Homo sapiens: one gene and its partners. The protein of the gene in region 3 purifies or fractionates together with the protein of the main gene of each other region. This does not show direct contact. Each region holds a gene or a part of one and is shown on either strand. Other genes may lie near its edges.

The links. The genes of interacting proteins can lie anywhere in the genome.
Region 1: the proteins of GPN1 (region 3) and POLR3E purify together in Homo sapiens (affinity purification with mass spectrometry; 3 studies listed by BioGRID and IntAct, with this or other methods). This does not show direct contact.
Region 2: the proteins of GPN1 (region 3) and POLR3B purify together in Homo sapiens (affinity purification with mass spectrometry; 4 studies listed by BioGRID and IntAct, with this or other methods). This does not show direct contact.

What each region holds. Positions count from the first base shown.
Region 1 is NC_000016.10:22,314,190-22,321,936, forward strand, and holds part of POLR3E (DNA-directed RNA polymerase III subunit RPC5), read left to right. Parts: intron 1-899; coding exon 900-1,019; intron 1,020-2,411; coding exon 2,412-2,497; intron 2,498-2,805; coding exon 2,806-2,850; intron 2,851-2,925; coding exon 2,926-3,017; intron 3,018-4,636; coding exon 4,637-4,757; intron 4,758-7,747. UniProt on the Homo sapiens protein: DNA-dependent RNA polymerase catalyzes the transcription of DNA into RNA using the four ribonucleoside triphosphates as substrates.
Region 2 is NC_000012.12:106,430,529-106,438,275, reverse strand, and holds part of POLR3B (DNA-directed RNA polymerase III subunit RPC2), read right to left. Parts: intron 5,959-7,747; coding exon 5,796-5,958; intron 4,558-5,795; coding exon 4,404-4,557; intron 1,220-4,403; coding exon 1,145-1,219; intron 596-1,144; coding exon 497-595; intron 1-496. UniProt on the Homo sapiens protein: Catalytic core component of RNA polymerase III (Pol III), a DNA-dependent RNA polymerase which synthesizes small non-coding RNAs using the four ribonucleoside triphosphates as substrates.
Region 3 is NC_000002.12:27,638,717-27,646,557, forward strand, and holds part of GPN1 (GPN-loop GTPase 1), read left to right. Parts: intron 1-168; coding exon 169-315; intron 316-1,326; coding exon 1,327-1,409; intron 1,410-2,523; coding exon 2,524-2,563; intron 2,564-3,326; exon of another isoform or gene 3,327-3,453; intron 3,454-3,712; coding exon 3,713-3,803; intron 3,804-3,851; exon of another isoform or gene 3,852-4,176; intron 4,177-7,841. UniProt on the Homo sapiens protein: Small GTPase required for proper nuclear import of RNA polymerase II (RNAPII). May act at an RNAP assembly step prior to nuclear import.

The sequences.
Region 1 (7,747 bases), on a different chromosome or scaffold from region 3:
GGGGTAGCGGGTCTTCACAGAATGCAGGTGGAGCAGACAGGGCCCATGCTTTTGAGCCTTCTTGCTGGGCTACCTGGAGGGAACAACCTGAGTTGTTCCAGCTATACACAAGATGGAAGCCCTGGCTGGATCCAGGAGATGTGTGCCTGGGGCTTGGCTAGAGTCACCTGGGAGCAGGAAGCTGGGGCCAGGAGCCCTGAGGACCCGCAGACCAGCTCTGCCATGAACCTGTATCTTAACAGAGCCAAAGTCAATTAACTGTGATTCTATCCTCTTTATGGGGCACGGATGAATAGTTTTCGTTTTAATAGTTATTCCTGAATTTTAAAGATTTTTCAAAGAATCTTAACCTTCCATTTATGGTTTGTAAAGTTTTCCCTATTTAAGCATATTTAGATTAAAATGAGTAGTACCAAAAGAAAAATGCTACACGTAGAATGATGATACACAAGTATGGCTAGAGAGTGGTGAGTGTTTGGAAGCCCTTGAGGACCGGGGAACACGGGCGTAATGGACATGGAGGTGGCGCAGGGAGCTCATCCTGTTCTCTCCGTAGCTTATTAGGACCTTAGAAACTCCCTTCCGCTCTGGGGAACTTAGAAAAGGCATCCTGGGCCTGTCTGCTTTAAGGACTCTGCTGGCTCTGGCGCCTGGGACTCTAATCCCCCTCAAGCCTCTGGGCTGGGCAGGCACGAGCAAGTATAAGCCGTTCCCTGGCGTGTGCAGGCAGCTCTGGGAGGGACACGGTTGGAACGGAATTTAAACGACCTGTGCTAGGAAAGGAAGGGAGAGTGGAAAACCCCTATACGGAGTTCTCTGGTCTTCTGGCAGGGGCTGAGACGGCAGTCCAGCAAGGGTCACAGGCCTGACGGTATGACCTCTTCCCCTTCCCACCGCAGGTGCGGTTCTCCCGGCCGGAGTCAGAGCAGGCCCGCCAGCGCCGTGTGCAGTCCTATGAGTTCCTGCAGAAGAAGCACGCAGAGGAGCCCTGGGTCCACCTGCATTACTATGGCCTGAGGGTGAGCGGGGCTTCGTGGGGTCCTGGGGGAAACACCTCGGTGCCCGGAAGGGTCATGGTGTGGCCTCCGTGTCTCACCTTGAACTTAAGTCAAATTCATGAGTCATAGCCACAGATAGAGGATCGAGTCCTGTGGGCAGTTTACACTTCACTCCAGCCGAGCCACTTAGCGTGGGCCCCAGGAGAGCAAGAGGAAAAGATGCGAGTCCTTGGTTCCCTGGGTGGGGTTTGGCCCCTGGGCATGGGCATCTTGCTGGGCTTGCAGTGGGGCTAGTGCCTGGTAACATATTTTCGCTGCAGCCCAGGCCCTAAACGCAGGCCAGATGCATTCTCCGGTTCTGTCCTAGAGGGTCGGTCATGTGTTGCCACCCCAGAGTTCCCAGCACCACCTGCCCAGGGGATTTTCTTACTGTGCTTGGTTTTCATCTGGTACGCTGACTTTATTTACTTTTATTTTTATTTATTTATTATTTATTTATTTATTGAGACAGTCTCATTCTGTCACCCAGGCTGGAGTGCAGTGGCTCGATCTCAGCTCACTGCAACCTCCGCCTCCCGGGTTCAAGTGATTCTTCTGCCTCAACCTCCCAGGTAGCTGGGACTACAGGCACCTGCTAATTTTTTTGTTTTTGTTTTTTTAGTAGAGATGGGGTTTTGCCATGTTGGCCAGGCTGGTCTCGAACTCCTGATTTCCAAGTGATCTGCCCACCTCAGGCTCCCTAAGTGCTGGGATTACAGGCGTGAGCCACGACCACCTGGCCCTGGTGCATTGATTTTAGAACCTAACCCTTGAAACTGTGTACTGAGTGAGGGATGCTTCCAAAGACACCATGGGCCAGGGCTCCCAATATTTTCTGGGGTGGGGAACAACTCCTGATTTCTCTGGAACCTTCTTGGAAGAGATTTGTGTTAACAGACCCTTAGACTCGGGGTCAAACTTCTAGACACTGCTGTTTCCTGCTGTGTGACCTTGGGCATGTTAGCTAACCTCTCTGAGCCTCAGTTTTCTTAATTATAAAATGAGAGTAGTAATAATAGTACCTACCTTGCCAAGTTATTTTGAGGGTGAGATGGGTTAGTATATTTACAGTCAGTGGAACAGAGTCCACCACATCCTAGATGCCCAGTGAATGTTAGCCATCATTTTGTCATTGCTGGTGGTGTACCTGTGTTACAGACAAGGCATCGAGGCTTGGGGGCTGGGGCTGGGCAGGTCATAAGGCCAGGAAGATGAGTGGCTGAGGCCACGTCAGAGGCCTTGGGTGCCGTGCTCAGGAGGTTGGATGTGGTCCTGTGGCTGGCCATGGAGTGGAAGACGGGAGGCCTTGGGGGAGGGGGCCCAGGCCAGGGCCATCAGCTGAGGCTCCTCTCACACCCTGCCCTCCTCCAACAGGACAGTCGCTCTGAGCATGAGCGTCAGTACCTGCTGTGCCCCGGCTCAAGCGGGGTGGAGAACACGGAGCTCGTCAAGTCACCCAGGTGGGATGGGCTGGGCCAGCATGCAAACTGGATGCCTGCCCAGGGTCCCCAGGGGTCCTTGGTGTGGATCCTCCCAGAGGACTGTGGCCCCTCCTGTAGCATGAGGGTGGAGCCCATTGTCCCCTGGAGAAGGCCAGGAGGGTGGGCCTGGAAAGAGATGGTCCACTTTTCTGCAGGGGCTCAGGGCTGCTGGGGGAGGGCGGGGGTGGGCTGTCTGCACCCTCTCCCCAGACCCTCACTTGGGTGGCTGGTGAGGAGGGTCCAGCCTGGATCAGCCCTGAGCCTCTGCCCCTGCCATGTCCCTGCAGTGAGTACCTGATGATGCTGATGCCACCCAGCCAGGAGGAGGAGAAGTGAGTAGAGGCGGCAGGACACCCTCTCCCTTTCCGGGCTGGCTGCCTCTAACCCGTCCCCTCTGCTTTTCCCAGAGACAAGCCTGTGGCCCCCAGCAACGTCCTGTCGATGGCCCAGCTGCGCACGCTGCCCCTGGCCGATCAGATCAAGATCCTGATGAAGAATGGTGGGTGCCTACCCCCTGCCCACCCGGGGGCCCCAGTCCCAGTGGCTCCTGAGGAATGGACTCTGTGGGACAGTGAGGACCAGGGGACAAGGCCAGAGGCCCCTGCTGCCCACAGCCTGCCCAGCTTTGCAGCTGCATCCTTGTCTGGAAAGATAACGCAGGACGGCAGTGCGGCCAGCTCCCGCAGGCAGCCCGGGTTCCCGTGAATGTAGGACAGTAGTGTGTCTGGCCCCCACAGGCGGGCTCGGGTTCCTGTGCCATGCTCACCACTTGTCTGCCATGCTCTTGGGCAGGTCATGAACCTTTCTGAGGCTTTGTTTGTTTTTCTGTGAAAAGAGACTAATGATAGTTCCTGGGGGCCAATGTGAGGAATCAGAGAGAGGAGGCTTCTAAAGTACAGGGCCTTGCAGGCGAACACGGACTAGGGGCTTTTTGTTGTTGTTGTTGTTGTTGTTGTTGTTTTTTTTTTTAAGGTTTTTTTAAAGGTTTTAAAGGTTTTTTTTAAAGGTTTTGCTGTGTAACTCCTGGGCCCAAGTGATCCTCCTGCCTCAGCCTTCCGAGTGGCTGGGCCTACAAGCAGACGCCATTCACTGCACCGGCTCAACTAGGGTCATTTTCATGACAATGTCTTCACTGGCATTGCTTCTGGGTACTCTTGCCAGACCTGGCACCATAAGGACTGGTCTCCTTTTCTCAGAGGACTCTGAGTGCCAGAACCTTTAGGGTACCCGTGGCTGGTGAACAACAGACCTGATCCTTGAGTTCAGAATGGAGCCGCAGAACCTGGGCTCGTCCTTTGAGATGCCACCATGAGCTCTTAGGAGTCTAAGGAGAGAGGGGAGCTCCATGATATGCTCGGGATTTTAGGCTTCCTTCCTGCAGAGGACTTCGAACTTTTTTTTTTTTTGAGACAGTCTTGCTCTGTCACCCAGGCTGGAGTGCAGTGGCACAATCTCGGCTCACTGCAACCTCCGCCTCCCGGGTTCAAGCAATTCTCATGCCTCAGCCTCTGGAGTAGCTGGGACTACAGGTGCCCGCCATCACGCCCAGCTAATTTTTGTATTTTTAGTAGAGATGGGGTTTCGCCTTGTTGGCCAGGCTAGTCTCAAATTCCTGGCCTCAAGTGATCTGCCTCCCTCGGCCTCCCAAAGTGCTGTGATTACAGGTGTGAGCCAAAGCGCCCAGCCAAATTTTGGACTTTCCCTGGGCCCTGCCCAGGGCTCACTTGGGCGGGAGCAGAGCACAGTGATTGAGGGTACCAAGTGGAGCCAAGTGGCTTGGGTTCACTTCCTGGCTCTGCTACTTCCTAGCCAAGAGATCATGGGTGAGCTTTGAAGCCTTTCCAGGTCTGAGTAGTAATAGACCCTTCCTCCTGAGGCACCCCTCAAGTCTTCCTTAAGGGGCACTTCATATAATCCTCAGATTTCATGAGGTGCCCAGTGCCTGGCATGTAGTGAGCAGCCTGAGAGTGTCAGCTGTTGGCTATGATGGGTGTCATTACTGTTAGTTATCACATTCTGGGGTTATTACATGAACTTGAAGCTATGCGGACTCTCGGTGGAGGGGAGGGAAGGGCCCGGCCCCTCTTCCTTGTCTGATGTCTCCTGCGTCCTCCTCAGTGAAGGTCATGCCTTTTGCCAACTTGATGAGCCTCCTGGGCCCCTCCATCGATTCCGTGGCTGTTCTGCGGGGCATCCAGAAGGTGGCGATGTTGGTCCAAGGGAACTGGGTGGTGAAGAGGTAAGTTGCTTTTTTTATTTTTTATTTTTATTTATTTTTTTCCTTGAGGCAGAGCTTCACTCTTGTTGCCCAGGCTGGTGTGTAGTGGCGCAATCTCGGCTCACTGTAACTTCTCCCTCCCAGGTCCAAGCAACTCTCCTGCCTCAGCCTCCTGAGTAGCTGGGATTATAGGTGCCCGCCACCATGCCCAGCTAATCTTTGTGTTTTTAGTAGACACGGGTTTCACCATGTTGGCCAGGCTGGTCTCGAATCCTGACCTCAAGTGATCCACCCACCTCGACCTCCCAATGTGTTAGGATTATAGGCGTGAGCCACCGGGCCCGGCCTACGCTGTATTCTCTTAATGGGAGCATTTGGTCCTTTTAAATTTAATGCAGTTACTAGTGCTTTGGGTTTAAATCTACAGTGCTTTCTATTTGTCCTGCCTACATTGCATTTAAACTGTTTTTTGTTTTTTTGTTTTTTTTTTTGAGACAGAGTCTCGCTCTGTCCCACAGGCTGGAGTGCAGTGGTGCGATCTCGGCTCACTGCAAGCTCTGCCTGCCGGGTTCACGCCATTCTCCTGCCTCAGCCTCCCGAGTAGCTGGGACTACAAGGCACCCGCCACCACGCCCAGCTAATTTTTTGTATTTTTAGTAGAGATGGGGTTTCACTGTGTTAGCCAAGATGGTCTCCATCTCCTGACCTCGTGATCTGCCCGCCTCGGCTTCCCAAAGTGCTGGGATTACAGGTGTGAGCCACTGTGCCTGGCCGCATTTAAACATTTTTTAAATTGACACATAATGTACATATTTATGGGGGCAGTGTGAAATCTAAATACATGTATACAATGTAATGATCAAATCAGGGCAATTAACATATCTATCCCCTCAAACATTTCTCATTTTTGTGTTGGGCACATTCAAACTTCACTTTTCTAGCTATTTAAAATTATACAATAAATTGTTCTTAATTATAGTCACCCTGTAGTACCCTTTGTCCTGCCTACATTGGATTTTTATATCATTCTTACCATCTGCTGGATTCATTTCTGTTTCTATTTTTTCCTGCTAACTTGGAAGTTACACTGTTTGGGCTCATATATTGATTACCCTACAGTTTTCAGCTTACATTCATGACTTAACACATTTTAATGTTAATTGCTGCTTTTTACCCCATTCCAATCTATTCAGAGATCTTAGAATATTTTATATCTATCCTCATACTTACACACTGCTAGATTGGTATATATATATTTTTTTACCTTTTTAATTTGCCAATCTTCTCTAGTGTTCCAATTTTAGTATATGTACTGCCGAAGAGAGCACAGGATTGGTGTATTTTTATTTTTTTTTTGAGATAGTCTCTCTCTCTTGCCCAGGCTGGGGTGCAGTGGCACAGTCTCAGCTCACTGCAACCTCTGTCTCCCGGGTTTAAGCGATTCTCCTGCCTCAGCCTCCCAAGTAACTGGGATTATAGGCGCTTGCCACCACGCCCGGCTAATTTTTGTATTTTTAGAAGAGGCAGGGTTTTGCTGTGTTGGCCAGCTGGTCTTGAACTCCTGACCTCAGGTGATGCACCCATCTCGGCCTCCCAAAGTGCTGGGATTACAGGCGTGAGCTACCGTGCCCGGCCTGGTGTATTTTAATTCTCTGTATGTTTTCAGCCCCATAAGACATTACTGTATCCAGTCAATCAATATTCTTTACTCGCATGTTTATAATTTAGTCATCATTTCTTTCTGCATCTCTAAGTTTCTATCTGGGATCATTTCGTTCTGCCTAAAGAATGCTATAGTATTTCCTTTAATGTGGGTCTGTTGGTGATGCATTTCCTTGGTTTTTGTGTGTCTGGAAATGTCTATTTCACCTTTGTTCTAGAATTCTAGATTGGTGGTTATTTTCCTTTCCACGCGTTGATATGATTTTGTTGTGTTCCGACTTCATTGTTTCTGTTGGCAGTTTTGTTCTTATTCCTTTGAAGGCAGCCTGCCTTTGTTTTCCTCTGGCTGCTTTTAGGAGTTTCTCTGTTTTTGGTTTTCTACGGGTTCGTTTAGATGTGTCTTTAAGTGTGAATTTTTTACATACTCTGCTGGGGATCACAGGTCTTGAGCGTGGGGCTTGATGCCTTTCAGTGGTTTCTCTTCGGCGAATCCTCCCCTAGACCATGTGCTGCCTCCACGAGACCATCAGTTTCAAGGGATTAGGGATGTCTGTTTTGACTCCTGCTTTATGTTCCCAGTACCCGGAATAATGCCTGGATATTACCAGTGCAGACCCTTGGTAAATAATGTGGCTACGTTTTACTTGAATTATATTGATTCTGAATGATGTAGCATTAATTGCATTAATAACTCACTTTTTAAGTAATGTAGTTTAAGGTGAGCAATGTGACAAAATGTGAAATGTTGAACATTTTAAGAAAATACAATGCCTTGAAAGCTCCTCATAGTTGTAGAGTATATTCGTGTTACTGCCACCTGGTGGCGCCCTTGCACTGCTCCACAGGTGCCCAGCGCAGTTTGTCAGCACCTTGCGGCTGTTGTCCTTTGTTACACGTTTTCATCATGGAAGGCTTTTGCAATGGCGCATCGCGTATTACATAGGACCACGTGTGTATATTTACACCATAAGTGAATGAAAGCCAAGAGGGGTCCTCCCGTCACACACCTGAGGACACTGGCCCAGAGAGGCATGGGACTTGCCAAAAGTCTTGCAGCAAGGCAGCCGCAGAGCCCTGTTAAAACCTAAGCCTCATGGCTCAGCCCTGGGCTCTGCACCCAGCACTGCATGTGTCCCCTGGAGGTGCTGCCCCTTTTAGTTTCGCCCTGTCCTGGGGACTGGAAGGTAGGGACTTGGGGACTGTGGGCATTTCACCTGCCCCGGCACTTCTGTAAGCCCTACTCTGCTGCTGCCCATGCTGCCATGTCAGGGGCCCCTGGGTGAGGGTCCTGTGTGTGCCTGTGAGGAGACAATGCAAAATCCATGCCTCCATTCAGTCACTATGGCTAG
Region 2 (7,747 bases), on a different chromosome or scaffold from region 3:
AGAAATATACAATATACATATATACCATGAAATACTATGCAGTCATAAAAAGGAACAAGATCATGTCCTTTGCAGAGACATGGATGAAGCTGGAAGCCATCCTCAGCAAACTAACACAGGAACAGAAAACCAAACACCGCATGTTCTCACTCACAGGTGGAAGCTGAACAATGAGAACACATGGACACAGGGAGGGGAACAACACACACCAGGGGGACTGTTAGGGGGTTGGGGGAGGAAGAGCATCAAGATAAATAGCTAATGCATGCTGGGCTTAATACCTAGGTGATGGGTTGATAGGTACAGCAAACCACCATGGCCCACGTTTACCTATGTAACAAACCTGCATGTTCAAACAAAAAAAAGAAGATTGTATATTTCTAACAGTTCCTGTCAAAAGAGTAAAAGATAGAAGGACTGAAGATGACAGTAAAAGAGAAGGTAGTTTCTATAGTCAGAACACGTTTTAATTATGGTTGCTATGGATCCTACTTACTTATTAATTGTGTGTTCGTACAGTGCAATGTTACAATCATTTTCTTCATTCACATCTAAATATTCAACCAGACTCTCATGTAAGAAATCTTCAAAATTCCTGGGAAAATATTGGTGAAAGAGACATCATTAAAAAGCATTTTTCTGCAGTATTTTATATAATAACAGGAGATACTGGCTTTCGTTTAGGCCCAAAGCACCTTTCTCTCCCAGAGAATATCATTACATTGGGATACCTGAAACATGTTATTCTTAGCTCACACAGTAACCACAAACTGCTGAAATAAAAACAGCAAAGTGTCTGTCTGTAACTCTTGTGAACCTAGTCCCCACTTCTTAAAAAAAAAATTCTGACCTTAGAAACCTCATAATGAGACCCACAGTGTCTACACTGACACATGATGTAAGTCCTTTTCTTACCAGAAACACTTACTTGTGTACTAACTGACATCAAGACTAGGTAACCCTCATGATCTAAATTGATGAATATTTTACAATGTCCAAGCAAGTTCACATGGAGCAAAATAGGTTTTTAACAGGCTGGTAATTTGGTGGAAAGAAATTAAAACACTAAAATGAAAATACACTTTTCTTAAATCATGTATGTGGGTATTAAGGAGATTGGTAAGTTTTACTTTTGGCTACTTACCTGTACCCTTGGGCCAGCTCTTCCATATGTTTATTTGTGACTGCTGGCTTCTGTTTCTTGACAATTATGTAGGGTCTAGAATGGAAACAGCAAACCAAATTAATAATAGTTCCAGGGAAAAATTACACAGGCAAGTTAGTTTACCAAAGTGAGATGAGGGAAGATGTAAATACAAACAAACCTATTCCTGGATTGCTGAGGACACCAGGTAATTTTTGTATGGATGAGCATGGTGTAGGGGACTATGCTCTCTCTCACATACACACACATACATACCCAAGCCCATGTGTACATGTGAGTATGTGTGGACATATTCATGCACACACACAGTGCTTCCTGCAAGTATCTTAGGAAACATTTGGTTTTGAATGAAAAGGCAACACAAAAATGATACTCAAAGTCTGAAAAGGAAACAAAACCTTTAATGCCATATTTTAAAAAACGGTGTAATGTATCAATCTAAAAACTTCCCGATTTCACATTGGAAAATTTTGCATACTACTCATGGAGTTAACAGGCAAAGAAGCACTGTCACCTAGGGTAATAACGGCGTTGTGTTGTGAGGTTCTGATGAATATCCAGATGTTTAGAGTAGTTTGATTTAGTCTAAACATCACTGAGCTAGGTTAGCAAGATACTTAAAGCTACACATTACCAAAGAGAGTGGCTAAAAGTTGGCAGAGAATGAAGCTTTCTTACTTTGTGGTTTTCAGTGACGTAATGGGTGGAAGGTGGAGAAGGCATTCTGGCAGATTAACCTGTAACTGTCAGTGGGGACTTGCCTCGGAGGGCTTTGCCACCATGAGGAAACCCGGACACAAAGGATGGCATGCGGCACTGAAACGTCAAGGGCTGTTGCTATTTGGATAAGCAGCTCTTACAGAGAGGAGCAAGTAACCACCAGACACTTGTGCGCTCTACCCTAAAGTCCAAATAACTATTTGAGGACTAATGAGCACTTTTCAACAGTTAAGAAGAGGAGCTGCACAATTACAAAAGGGGAACACAAGTTGTTGAAAAATGAACTGGGTGAGCTTTTCATGGAAATCCACAGTACCTCGAAATTCTGGCTCCTTCTTGGTAGGGAAGCAGAGCCTACTAATGCCTCATTTGAGCGCTGCAGTGGATTCAGGTTAAGCCTCAGATGAGAAGACAGAAACCGGCGGAGGAGAGGGAGGGGATCACATTTAGCTGCCTCAGTTATCCTTACGTTACTCAACGCATTCTACTATTTTTTCCTGCTAGATCTGTTATGCCATTATAAAGTTGCTTCTATAAAAGAGTTTTATTTTTGAATATATATTATGTTGGATGTAATGAAATCCTAAAAAAGAGTAACCTAGAAAATGTCACTGTTATTCCTGCCCTTAACTGGACCATGCTATTAAGTTATAAATAAGCACCTAATGTGTGCCTGGCACCCTACTGAGCACTTACCACACCTTCTATCAACTAGTTCTCAGGACAATCTTAGGCAGGCATTATTGTTTCCATTTTACAGCCAAGGAAACCAAGGCTGAGAGACTGAAGTAGTATACTCAGAGTCACACAACTCAGTAAGTGGGAAGTTAGGATTCAAACACAGGTATATCATCAGCTAACCATTCTTCGGTTGCAAAGAAGAGAAACCAATTCTGGCTAATTTAAGCAAAAATGAAGTTTACTGGAAGCATTAAGAATTTACAGGTGCTGGGTGCGATGGCTCACACCTGTAATCCCAGCACTTTGGGAGGCTGAGGTGGGTGGATCACTTGAGGCCAGGAGTTCGAGACCAGCCTGGCCAACACAGTGAAACCCCATCACTACTAATAATACAAAAAATTAGCCAGGGGCAGTGGTGTGTGCCTGTAATCCCAGCTACTGGGTCAGGGACGGGGGTGGGGAGCTGAGACATGAGAATCGCTTGAACCTGGGAGGCGGAGGCTGCAGTGACTCAAGATCGTACCACTGCACTGCAGCCTGGGTGACAAAGTGAGACTCTGTCTCAAAAAAAAAAAAATAATTTAATGGAAGGATAAGAATCAAAGAAAAAGGTGAAATGCTCAGCCTCAGAAAGAAAAGGAACGAGAGCAGTTCCAAGAATCCAGAAAATGAGGTTTAACAGGCAGTCTCTTGCATGTAGCACTGGGAGAATGAATCAAGTCCAACCACCTCCCTCCCTTGATTTATTTTACCTGGGATTCAAATTCTCTGATGAGGGGGTCTGACTGACCTCATTTGGGTCATATGCCCAACCCCTGGCTGAAGAGAAGAGGGTGCTGGACTGACCATCCCAAGAAGCCTGCCAATGGGGACAGGCAGTCCTCAAAAGAAAATGAGGTAGTGTCATATGAAGGAGGAAAGGATGCTGGAGGAAAGAAAGCATGCAGTCACTCTCCCAGCTCTGACAGACTTCCAGCTACTGCTGGCTCACTGCCTTGTGCTTCAACACTACCCGAGGTATACACAGAATAACTACGGTAATGCTAGAAAAGGCTTGTGACACAAGGCAATGTCCTCAGCTGATGTCTCTGCATAGCCCCTCAAACCAGACACCATGTCACATTCGTCTCTGTACCTCCGGCTCCTAGATAGTACCTGTGCACAATAGGCCCTTAATAAATACTTACTGAATGAATAAAAGGAACCTACTTTTCCATTGGATCTAGTGTTATTTTATTTCTTCATGCCTCCATGTTTTCATTCTTGCCTTTTTTCAGCCTTTCTCCTCCCCACCTACCTCCAAGTTAACACAATCCTACTCCTCCTTTAAAGCTCAGTTTGTAGCAACAGACTATAGTGGGCAAAATCATGCGTCAAACGAATCCTAAGGACTTTCAAATAAAAAACAGATTCCACCACTCTTTAGCTTTCAGTAAGTTACTTAGCCTCACTGAACCTCAGTTTCCTCATTTCTTAAATGACAAGAATAATCCAACCTCATAGGGTTGAATGAAGAAGTTAAAGCCTTACACATATAGTGTCTCCATTAAAATGACAAATGGTGGCTAGCATTAACCACTACCACAGTTGATTGTTATTAGTCATTTTTTCTGCCTTTCCCGGCAGACTGAGCTCTCTGAGGGCAGACTCTGTCTCCCATTAATCTGAATCCTCGGTACCTAATATGCATATTCATGAAGTGTTTGCTCACGGAATTAAATTTATCTTCACAATGAAAGAGGTTAAAACAGTTTCAAAAATAAAAACAAGTCTATTTCTTTCAAGAGCAAATATAAAGAGATTCTTAAAAACTCTTTTTAGTAACCTGCATATATACCTGCATAGCCTTCCCCCATCAGAAGAAATATAGACACATCGATCTGTAAGATTTGTTGAGATGGAAACAAATTCATTGATATATCCTGCTCTTCTCATGAGTCGAAATGTATTCACTAGCTTTTTGTGGTCTCGAATGACACCTAAGATGTTACCTAGGCAAAAAGAAAGAACAGGTAAGACAGAAATAAAAAATAAATGCAACCTGATTTAATATATCCAACCAATAAAAATAGTAATCAGCACTAAGCAGTTATTTGAAAATACCATTATTAACACCTGCAGCCAGTCCACAAGGTTGCAGGGAAGCAACAAAGGAAGAATGCTTAAGGGCCAGTCCTTCCACATGCAGGCTGAGGAATACTGGAAAAGTCAGCTTCATTTTCCTCATCTTTCAGCACAGTGCTGGGGCATGAACTTGGGGTCCAAACAACCTGGGTTTGAACACTGGCTCCATCACTTCCACAGGCTGGCAGTAAAGGTTAAACGAGCTGATCATTTAAAGTACTGAGAATTCTGCCTAGCACCTACTAACTGCTATTATTAAACTGCTTCTTGTTGTAATCAACATTTGTGAAATGAGGAAAATGAACTTTGCTTCCCAAGGTTAGCGGGAGGATTCAAAGAGGCACTGGGTGAAAGTGCAGAGTAAAAGCTCACTCAATGTTAGCCTCTGGGATACAATGAACTAGGCAGTCAGTTAACAGCCCTGCTGAGGCTCTGACCCCTTCCTCACCAGCAGATATAAAAAAGAGTTAATGCCTCCTAGAATGAGAGGAAGGGGGAGAGGAAGAGAGAACAGACAAGTGATAAGGGATAAGCTCATGGAGCATACTAGGGAGAGAACAGGCACACAGCACCAAATCAAAAGCAGAAAGGAAGAGAGCACACTTGCTGCTAAGTCTCTGGAAGACTTCGAAGGAGACGGGAAGAGGTATATGAAAGAAATAACTGGAGTGTGAGCCAAAGGAGAGGGATCCTCTTATCACAGGCTGCTGACATATTGATTATCAGATGGCTAGACAAAGTCAATTCATTATAAGAGTTGATCTGATAATTTTTGCAGAATGACTCCAATATTTGACTTGTACTTAAAGATACCATGTTGAACCGTATTCCACTAAGGATATGCCAGCAACTGCAAAAGGGGAGAAAGCAGCCACTTTCTGCAAAGTTACCCTTTAGCTCTGATAGCTATATCCTCTCAGAACCTTGGATAACCCAGCCAACAAAGTAACTGTTTCTGTTATCATTGTATTTTCTACCTTTAAGTGAAGGTCAACCTGGGCCCAGAATTAAAGTCTATCTGTGCTTTAAATACCAGGATAATAATGGATTCCCTCCCCCTCTTCACAGACTATCTAGGACCAACATGTCTCTATAATATACCCACCATTAAGAAAGACAAGAAACACATTTGGGTAAGAGAGCTCTTCCCCACATAATAAATTCACATCTTCTACTCCCAAGTTACTGGCTAATTTAACAATGGGTCCATCTTCCATATCAGTTGTGATGTGTGTCATAAGGGCCAAGTTTTTAACCAAACCACATGCCTAAAAAACAAAAGATGGTCATTTCTAAGAATGAACATTAGTAATACAAAGTACAGTTTACATCTGAAAATAGCTCACTACTTTGCTGGCAGCAATGCAAAGCAGTACAACTTTGTAGGGGATACTGTGGTGATTCGCACAAATGCCTTTAAAAAATATATATATCCCTTAACTCAGGGGAATTTCTCTTCATAACAAGCAAGGATATAAAATAGATTTAGATACAGAAATGCTCAGCACAGTACTATTTGTAATTGTAAATGCTGACGACATCATAAATGCCCAACAAAACTGATTACATTAACAATTACTCCCAGACATTGGAACATTACAGTCATTATGATGACATTGTATAAAATAAGTAAAGGAAAACATTAATAAATGCAGCTACATAAAAATATAAAACTTCTGGCCTGAAATGAGAGACTGTATAAAATAACTGGCCAGTGCCCTTAAGTTTCTTGGTCACGAAAGGTAAATAAAGACAGACTGAAAAACTCTTTCAGATGAAAAGAGACAAGGAGACATGACAACTAAAAACAATGTGTGATTCTGGATCAGAAAAAAGACAACAGTGGGACAACTGGCAAAATTTGAATAAGATCCATAGATTATAGTATTGTTCAATGTCATGAGGCTGATAACAGTGCTATGGTTACATAAGATGTTCACAGTTGGGAATCTAGATGAAAGATTGTGGAAAATCTTTGTACCAGTTTCATCACTTTTTTGTATATCTAAAATTATTTCAAAATGAAAAGAAAAGAAATCTTTTTAAACATCTATGCAACCCGGTACAGTTCTAAAACAAAAATACCAACAAGGACAGAATATAGCAAATAGGAAAAAAATACTTAAGACAGGTGACTTGTAAGATTGTATCTTCAGGTCTTAGAACCATCTGCTGCAGTAATGTACAAAATAGCTACTTTTTTGAAGTTAGCTGAAGCAATCTCTGGGAAATGAAATGTTTCAAAGTTCAAGATATATAAATTATGCAAAATTTGACAAACTGGATAATTTTAGTGTCAATTTCCATATGGTTTAAGATAAATTAAATAGTTTCTAAAAATCGCAGCTCTATACAGACTCCTATTTTCATCTCTTCCAAATAATAAATTCCTACACTTTGGACCCTACATCTTTTACTTGTTGTAATTATTAATTCAGCATATATTCATGGGGCCTGTACTCTAACCAAGGCTCTATGTTAGGAGCTTGAGATACAATGGTGAACCTTCCTTCCTCCAGAATTTTACAATTTAGAAGGAATAGAATCAAGTGAAACTAACAATGTTAACACAAAGGAGAAAGGACCGTGACACAGGGAGTAGCGGGTGCTATAGAAGTAAACCCATGTAAACTCCCTGGCTTGATGTTTAGGCAATTGCTTGTGTTTCCAATATAAGTGAGTCAAAATCCACATTAGGTCATGGACTGTATACTCCTAATTGGCTGTGACTGAGCCTACCTAAGGACAATAAGGAGCTGCTCAAAAAGAGCCCCTCATGAGCATGAGAGGTGGTAGGTCTTTCAATCTGCCTTCACAGTCTTATCCCCTCTGTGCATGTTTTGATTTTGGGATAAACTAAAATAATAAAGAGAAACATGGACTATATTACTTTTAGCTAACATACTGAATCAAATGCTTCTGCAGGTCCTAGTTTTAGAATGATACTAATGTAGTCTTCCAAGCATGTCAATATTTATTTGCCAGATAAATGACAGACCAAAGAAAGGATATGGCCTGGAGATGGGAACAGAAGCAGACCTCCCCACCCCACCCCAT
Region 3 (7,841 bases):
ACTACACAATGATTGTGGTTCTTTGTGGCTTGTTGCAATGGAGGGGAAATAGAAGCAGAGAAAGAAAATATATGGATGATATGTTCTTTGCTGTCAACACTTAATTAAAAGAATAAATTTTGCGTTTGTTGGCTCTGGTTGCTCATAATTGACTTCTCTCTGGTACAGACTGACATCATTGACCACAGCTTTGCAGTGGAATGGATGCAGGATTTTGAGGCTTTCCAAGATGCCTTGAATCAAGAGACTACATACGTCAGTAACCTGACTCGTTCAATGAGCCTGGTGTTAGATGAGTTTTACAGCTCACTCAGGGTAAATTTTCTCTCCTGCTCACACTGACAGCCTCTCCAGATAATCTGTTAACCCATAGGATTGGCTTTGAACCTGGCTGAGAAAGGAAGCTTATTACCTACTGAAAAGTAACTTTTAAAGCATTGCTTATTAAAAATTGTGGAGTGTACAAGAAGAATAAGATAGGGACCCCAGCTTCAGAGTTTATAGTCTATTTGGGAGAGAAGGCTACACACAGAATTAAAACATATGATATATTGTAGTAAGTACCTTAAGAAAGATTGGAAGTTGGGCCTGATGATTGTGAGGCGGCAGATCAAAATGACAGATTTTGGAGGATGTAGCATTAGAGGTATGCTTTGAAGAAGGGTAAGATTTATGTAAGCAAAGGCAGAATGGGTTAATTGCCCAAGGAAAGACATAGACAAAGCAGAAAGTGATTTGGTTTGGTTTGTTAGGGAATAGATAATAAGTCCTGTTAATTGTTCAGTCCTAATTATCTTTTTTTTTTCTTTTTTCCCTTTGGAGAGAGGATCTTGCTTTGTTTTACCCAGGCCAGAGTGTAGTGACAGGATCACAGCTCACTGCAGCCTTGACCTCGTGGTCTCAAGGGATCCTCCTGCCTCAGCTTACCAAGCAGCTAAGACTATAGGCGTGTGCGGTATACCATACCCAGCTAATTTTTTATATTTTGTAGAGACTGGGGTCTCGCTATGTTCCCCAGGCCAGTCTTGAATGCTTGGCCTCAAGTGCACCTCCTGCCTCAGCCTCCCAAAGTACTGGTAGTATAGGCATGTGCCACTGCACTCAGGCCATATCTTTCTTTTTCAATTTTTTATTTTCCATGGACTTATTTCTGTGACTTTTGACTGGGTGTGCTGTTTTGTTCTTTTTTAGCCTGGCTTTTTGCCAAAGACTTCTCAAAATATAAACCACTCTTACTAAGATTTTATGACATTTAAACAAGTTAATGTACTTCATTAAAAAATATACAATGGTTTCTTTAGTGGCATTTATGATGCTTTTTGGCAGGTGGTGGGTGTCTCTGCTGTTCTGGGTACTGGATTAGATGAACTCTTTGTGCAAGTTACCAGTGCTGCCGAAGAATATGAAAGGTGAGGATAAAGGAAAATTCTATTGATGACATTCTTAATAACCTACAATTCTGATATGAAAGCAGTTTTTCCAGGAAAAGCATTACATTTTCATGATGGATGTATTATATTTGGTTTGCATATGTGTATTGAATCAGACCACACTTAGGGGTGACAAGTTCCCTTTAAATTTTGTTTTTTTTAAATAGAAGTATAAATCTTCATTGTATTGAGTGATTAAGAGCAGGGATCATCAGACTTTTCTGTAAAGAGCTAAACAGTAGGTAGCTCAGGCTTTGTGGGTCATATAGTCTCTGTTGCAACTGCTCACGTCTGCCATTGTAGGACAAAAGCGTCCTCAGACAATTTGTAAATTAATGGGCGTGGCTAGTGTTACAGAAAAACATTTATGAAAACAGGCAGTGGGCTGGATTTGGCACTAAGGTTGTTGTGAAGATTGAGAAAACGTATACAGCACTTATCACAATTGCTGACATATAGTAAGCACATTTTATAATAAATGTTATAACTATTGTCATTGTTAATACTGGAATTCAAGTAAAGAAAAGTGGAGTCAGAGCCCTGTGCACTTTCCTTAGGCCTGTGGCATGATAGCCGGCTTATTAGTGTCATGTGTCTTTGGCTTCATATTTTGCAAGATCCTAACAACCATATTTTGGTTTTCAGACATGTTATTTTGATTTTGATTCATTAGACACAAGGGTGTTATCAAAACCTTAGGATAGACTCTTTTCTGTATCCTTTCACTGTTGTTGTTCAAGTAAAGCACATAATTGTATGTTGCACGTCCTGAGCTCAACAGGCTTATCTTTTACTTATCTCACCCTTTTATCTCAAATGAATGGTGAGTTCATCAGTCATGTTCTCACCAATATTAATCTTTCCAGCCCAGCAGTCAGGATTGTGTCTCCTGGTTCCAAGGTGGGAGCGGGCACCTTGGCTTTTAATTCCATTGGGTAGACTCTGTCAGTGACTAAGATTTGTTACATCTGATGTTGAATGAAGTCAGATGTTTTATTATTGTCAGTCTTAGGAAAATAGAGATAAGGGGATGTGGAGAGTCAGTAGGATAGAGGATTAAGCAAAGGAATTTAGAAAGTGTTTCTCTTTACAGGGAGTATCGTCCTGAATATGAACGTCTGAAAAAATCACTGGTAAGAAGGGAGGCTGTTTGTATATTTTAAAAGGGCCATTAAAAAAACCCAGCTCAATCTTGATGACATAAGTGCTTTTGTTTTGGTTATTAATGTATCTTTTATTTAATTAAAAAAGTTTTTTTTGTAGCTTTATTGAGGTACAAGTGGCTAATGAAATTTCAGTGTATCTTCTAAATACTTGTTAATTTAAATTTGTAAATTTGTATGTATGTTGTCTGGGTGCGGAAAGTCTCCTTAATGTTTCTTCCCTTTCAGAGGTCAATTTAAAGCTAGTTGTAGAATTTTGTATAAGAGTGTAGTGGTGCTTCACAACTCCTTTTCTTGTTGTTGAGAAAGGGTCTCACTCTGTCACCCATGCCAGAGTGCAGTGGCACGATCGCGGCTCACTGCAGCCTCGACCTTTTGGGCTTAAGCGATCCTCCCATCTCAGCCACCCGAGTAGCTAGGACAACATGTATGTACCACATGCCTGGCTAATTTTATTTTGTAAATTTTTTGTATAGACAAGGTCTCACCGTGTTGCCCAGGCTGGTCTCAAATTCCTGAGCTCCTGCAGTCCTCCCTGCTGGGCCTCCTGTAGTGCTAGGATTACAGGCAGGTGCCACCATGCCCAGCCTTCTCTTATCCCAAATGATCGAGTGTCCTGCTTCCTTAGGCTCATTGGATCCTTTGTCTCTGAGCCTTCCTGCTATGTCTACTTCAGGTTTTTGTGTTTTTTTTCCCCCATATAATAAAGTTTATTGTATCTTTTGTTTTTTCATTTTGTAGGCTGGGGATGAATAAAGAGTAATGCTTTCTATGTAGGCATTTTGCCTAGCCAGTTTAAATGTTCCAGTTCAATTAACAGAGCAGGGGATCCACCCTGGACTGAACTCAACACTTTAGAATTGAGGGTTCTTTTGAAACCTTTTTGTGTTCCGTTTCTGAACCCTCTAAATCAGTCTGCAGAGCCCTCCAGTCTAAACTTCTGCAGTAACCCAGGCCCACGCTACTTAGTGTTTCTGTCCCTATACCAGACGTCCCTTATCTGCATCAGTTTTTATGTAGCCTCTAGTATTTGTATAATTCTTCATCTCCACTGAGAAGTCTGGCATCTAATTTGGGACTCCTTTTTGAATATGATGACATTTTTCTCTGTATATACAGGCCAACGCAGAGAGCCAACAGCAGAGAGAACAACTGGAACGCCTTCGAAAAGATATGGGTTCTGTAGCCTTGGATGCAGGGACTGCCAAAGGTATTGGAGGGTTTCTTGGTGTTAGGAACTAAAAAAAGGTTACACTTCTTTCTTTTATTTATTTATTTATTTTTGAGACGGAGTTTCACTCTTGTTGCCCAGGCTGGAGTCTCGGCTCACCACAACCTCCACCTCCCAGGTTCAAGCAGTTCTCCTGCCTCAGCCTTCCTGAGTAGCTGGGATTACAGGCATGTGCCACCACACCCGGCTAATTTTGTATTTTTAGTAGAGATGGGGTTTTTTCCATGTTGGTCAGGCTGGTCTCGAACTCCTGACCTCAGATGATCCACCCACCTGGGCCTCCCAAAATGCTGGGATTACAGGCATGAGCCACTGTGCCTGGCCGGTTACACTTATTTCTATCAGCAGGATTCTGTTTATATATGAGAGAGAGAAAGAGAAAAAGATAAAGGAAATGTGGTTTTATATATATATATATACACACACACACACACACACACACACACACACACACATACATATGCATACATATATATTAAAAAATAAAGGATTTGGAAAGGCAAATTTGAAATTATATACAGCTCTACCACTTTGGGTTCCTCTTTCAGGAAGTTTTTGCTTTACTTTGGCAATATACTTGATGTGTGCTGTGGTGGTTTTTTTTGTTTGTTTCTAACACTTTTAACCCTCCTCAATTTTTTTTATAATTAAAAAAAATTTTTTTTTTTTTACAGTTTGACCTTAATTTCAGATTTACAGAAGTTACATGAATAATACAAATAATTGCCATAATTATTCTATCAGATTCCCAAAATGTTAACATTCTACCATGTTTACTTTATTCTTTATCTATATATGACTTTATATGTTATATAAATATATATTTTTCCTGAATCATTTGAGTAAGTTACAGATATAATACTCTTTTACCTTGAATAATTCAGTGTCTTTTTCCTAAAAACAAGGATATAATTTTATATAACCTCAGTGCAGTTATCAGAAATCAGGAAATTAACATTGACATAATACTATAATATTAGCTAACATATAGATCTTATTCAGATGTAGCCATTTCCCCATGATAGCAGGAGAAAATCTGGATGTGCATTGTATTTAATTCTCACATGCCTTATACTCCTTTAGAATCTGGAACAGTGCCTTAGTCTGACTTTGTATTTCATGACTGACATTTTTTAAGCATGTAGGATAGTTATTTTATAGAGCATCCTTCAGTTTAGGTTTGTCTCATGTTTCCTCATGATTTGATTCAGGTGACTAATTTTTGAATTGTGTTTTTTCAAGGAATCACATTGGGAGGCACGTGATGTTGATTTGTCCCATTACTGGTGATGTTAACTTTGAGTATTTTTATAAAGTGGTGTATGCTACGTTTTTCATAAAGAATTACTATTTTTAGGCCGGGCGCAGTGGCTCACGCCTGTAATCCCAGCATTTTGGGAGGCCGAGGCGGGTGGATCACTTGAGGTCAGGAATTCGAGACCAGCCTGGCCAACATGGTGAAACCCCATCTCTCCTAAAAATACAAAAAATTAGCTGGGCGTGGTCGTGCATGTCTGTAATTCCAGCTACTCGCTGAGGCTGGAGAGTCTCTTGAACCCGGGAGGCAGAAGTTGCAGTGAGCAAAGATCGCGCCACTGCACTCCAGCCTGGGTGACAGAGTGAGACTCCCTCCATCTTAAAAACAACAACAACAAAAATTACTATTTTTAAATATGGCTGTTTTTCTGTTTGTAATAAGAATTTTGTGGGGTGATGCTTTGAGACTATAAATATCCTTTTAGTTTTCTAATGTTCACCCATTAGTTTTAATATCCATTGATATAATAGGAATATCAATTTTTCTGTGATTATATGTTGCAAATGTTTAATATTTTCTCCCTATCAGTTATCCTTTGACTTTGTTCACGGTGTTATTTTGCCATGCAAAAGTTCTTATTTTGTTTTGATGTAGTCAAATTGATCTATCTTTTATTGCATCTGGGATTTTAAGTCACAGTTAGGAAGCCTCTATATATACCTATGTTAAAGAGGAATTCACCTATTTTTTTTTATAGATTTGTCTGGTTTTATTTTCTAAATTGAGATCCCCGATTAATTTAGAGTTTATTCCTGGCTATAGTATAAGGTATATAAGTCGGTGTTATTTTTTTCATAAATAGTTGTATCTGTATGATTTATTTAAAAGTCTGCCTTTGCCTTAGTGAGTTTTTTTTTTGGTAGTGTTTTTTTTTTTTTTTTTTTTACAGATGAGGTCTGAGGCTGGTCTGGACCTCCTGGGCTCAAGCGATTTTTCCATCTCAGCCTGCCAACTAGTTTGGATAGGTGTATGCCACTGCACCTGGCTTGTAACAGCGATTTGAGATGCTACGTGTATAATGTTCCAGACCAGCCTCAGACCTCATCTCTAAATGTAGTAAAGTTCCATGCATACTTGAGTATACTTCTATATTATTTCACTGGACTGTTTATTTATTTATTTTTTTTGAGATAGTTTCTCACTCTGTCACCCAGGCTGGAGTGCAGTGGCGCAATCATAGCTCCCTGCAGCCTCGAACTACTGGGCTCAAGCATTCCCCCTGTCTCAGCCTCCAGAGTAGCTAGATCTACAGGTGTGTGCCACCACGTCTGGCTAGTTTTAAGGAAATTTTTAATAGAGACGAGGTCTCACCATGTTGCCCAGGCTGGTCTTGAACTCTTGGCCTCAGGCAGTCCTCCTGTCTTGGCCTCCCAAGGTGTTGGGATCATAGGCATAAGCCACCATCCCCAGCCCATTTTTTTTTTCTTTTAACTTGCTTTGGTGAGCAAGGACTCCTTACTTTTATGCCTGTACCATGTTGTTTTAATTATGTAATTATGTTTCAATATCTGCTAGATCAGATTCTCCTCCTAATTTTTATTTGGCTGTCCTTACATGTTCTTCCATATGAACTGAGTATCAACTTTATCTAGTTCCTTAAAAAAGCTTTTTGGTATTTTAGTTGGGATTACATTATATTCATAATTAATTTAGGGAGAAGTGACATCTCTATGATGTTCAGTCTTGCTACCCAAGACCACAGAGTGTCTTTGTATTTGTCAGGTCTACTTGTGTCTTTCAGGAGTGTTTCCAGTTTTCCATATATAGGTTTTTCTTATTTCTTTTTAAAATGTTTTTGTTATTTTAGCCAACCTTTTTGACCAAGAGTTTTTGCCTGTTTCTTTTTAATTTTTTTTTTTTAAAACAAATCATCTTTATGTATTTGTTTTGAGACAGGGTCTTGCTCTGTCACCCCAACTGGAGTGCAGTGGTGTGATCTTGGCTCACTGCAGCCTCTGCCTCCTGGGTTCAAGCTATTCTCCTGCCTCAGCCTCCCAAGTAGCTGGAACTAGAGGTGCCTGCCACCATGCCGGGCTAAATTTTGTATTTTTAGTGGAGATGAGGTTTTGCCGTGTTGCCCAGGCTGGTCTCGAACTCCTGGGCTCAAGTGATCTGCCCACCTCAGCCACCCAAAGTACTGGGATTACAGGTGTGAACCACTGTACCCAGCTTGAAATTTATGTATGTATGTATTTATTTTTGAGGCAGAGTCTTGCTCTGTCACCTAGGCTGGAGTGCAATGGCGCGATCTCGGCTCACTGCAACCTCCGCCTCCCGGGTTCAAGCGATTGTTGTGCCTCAGCCTCCTGTGTAGCTGGGACTACAGGCACATGCCACCACGCCCAGCTAATTTTTGCATTTTTAGTAGAGACAGGGTTTTGCCATGTTGGCCAGGCTGGTCTTGAACTCCTGACCTCAGGTGATCTGCCCATTTCAGCCTCCCAAAGTGCTGGGATTACAGGCATGAGCCACCATGCCCAGCCCCAGCTTGAAATTTATTCTAAGTATTTAACCTTCTTCATTACTGTTGAAAATGGGATTTTCTGGACCGTTACATCTTATAACTGGTTTATGTTTGTATGTATGAAGGCTTTTGATTTCTGTATATTCATCTTTTATCCTGCTACTTTACTGAATTAAAAATTTTTTTTTAGTTTTATCATTGGCTCTGCAGGGGTTTTTAGGTTAGTTTTCATTTA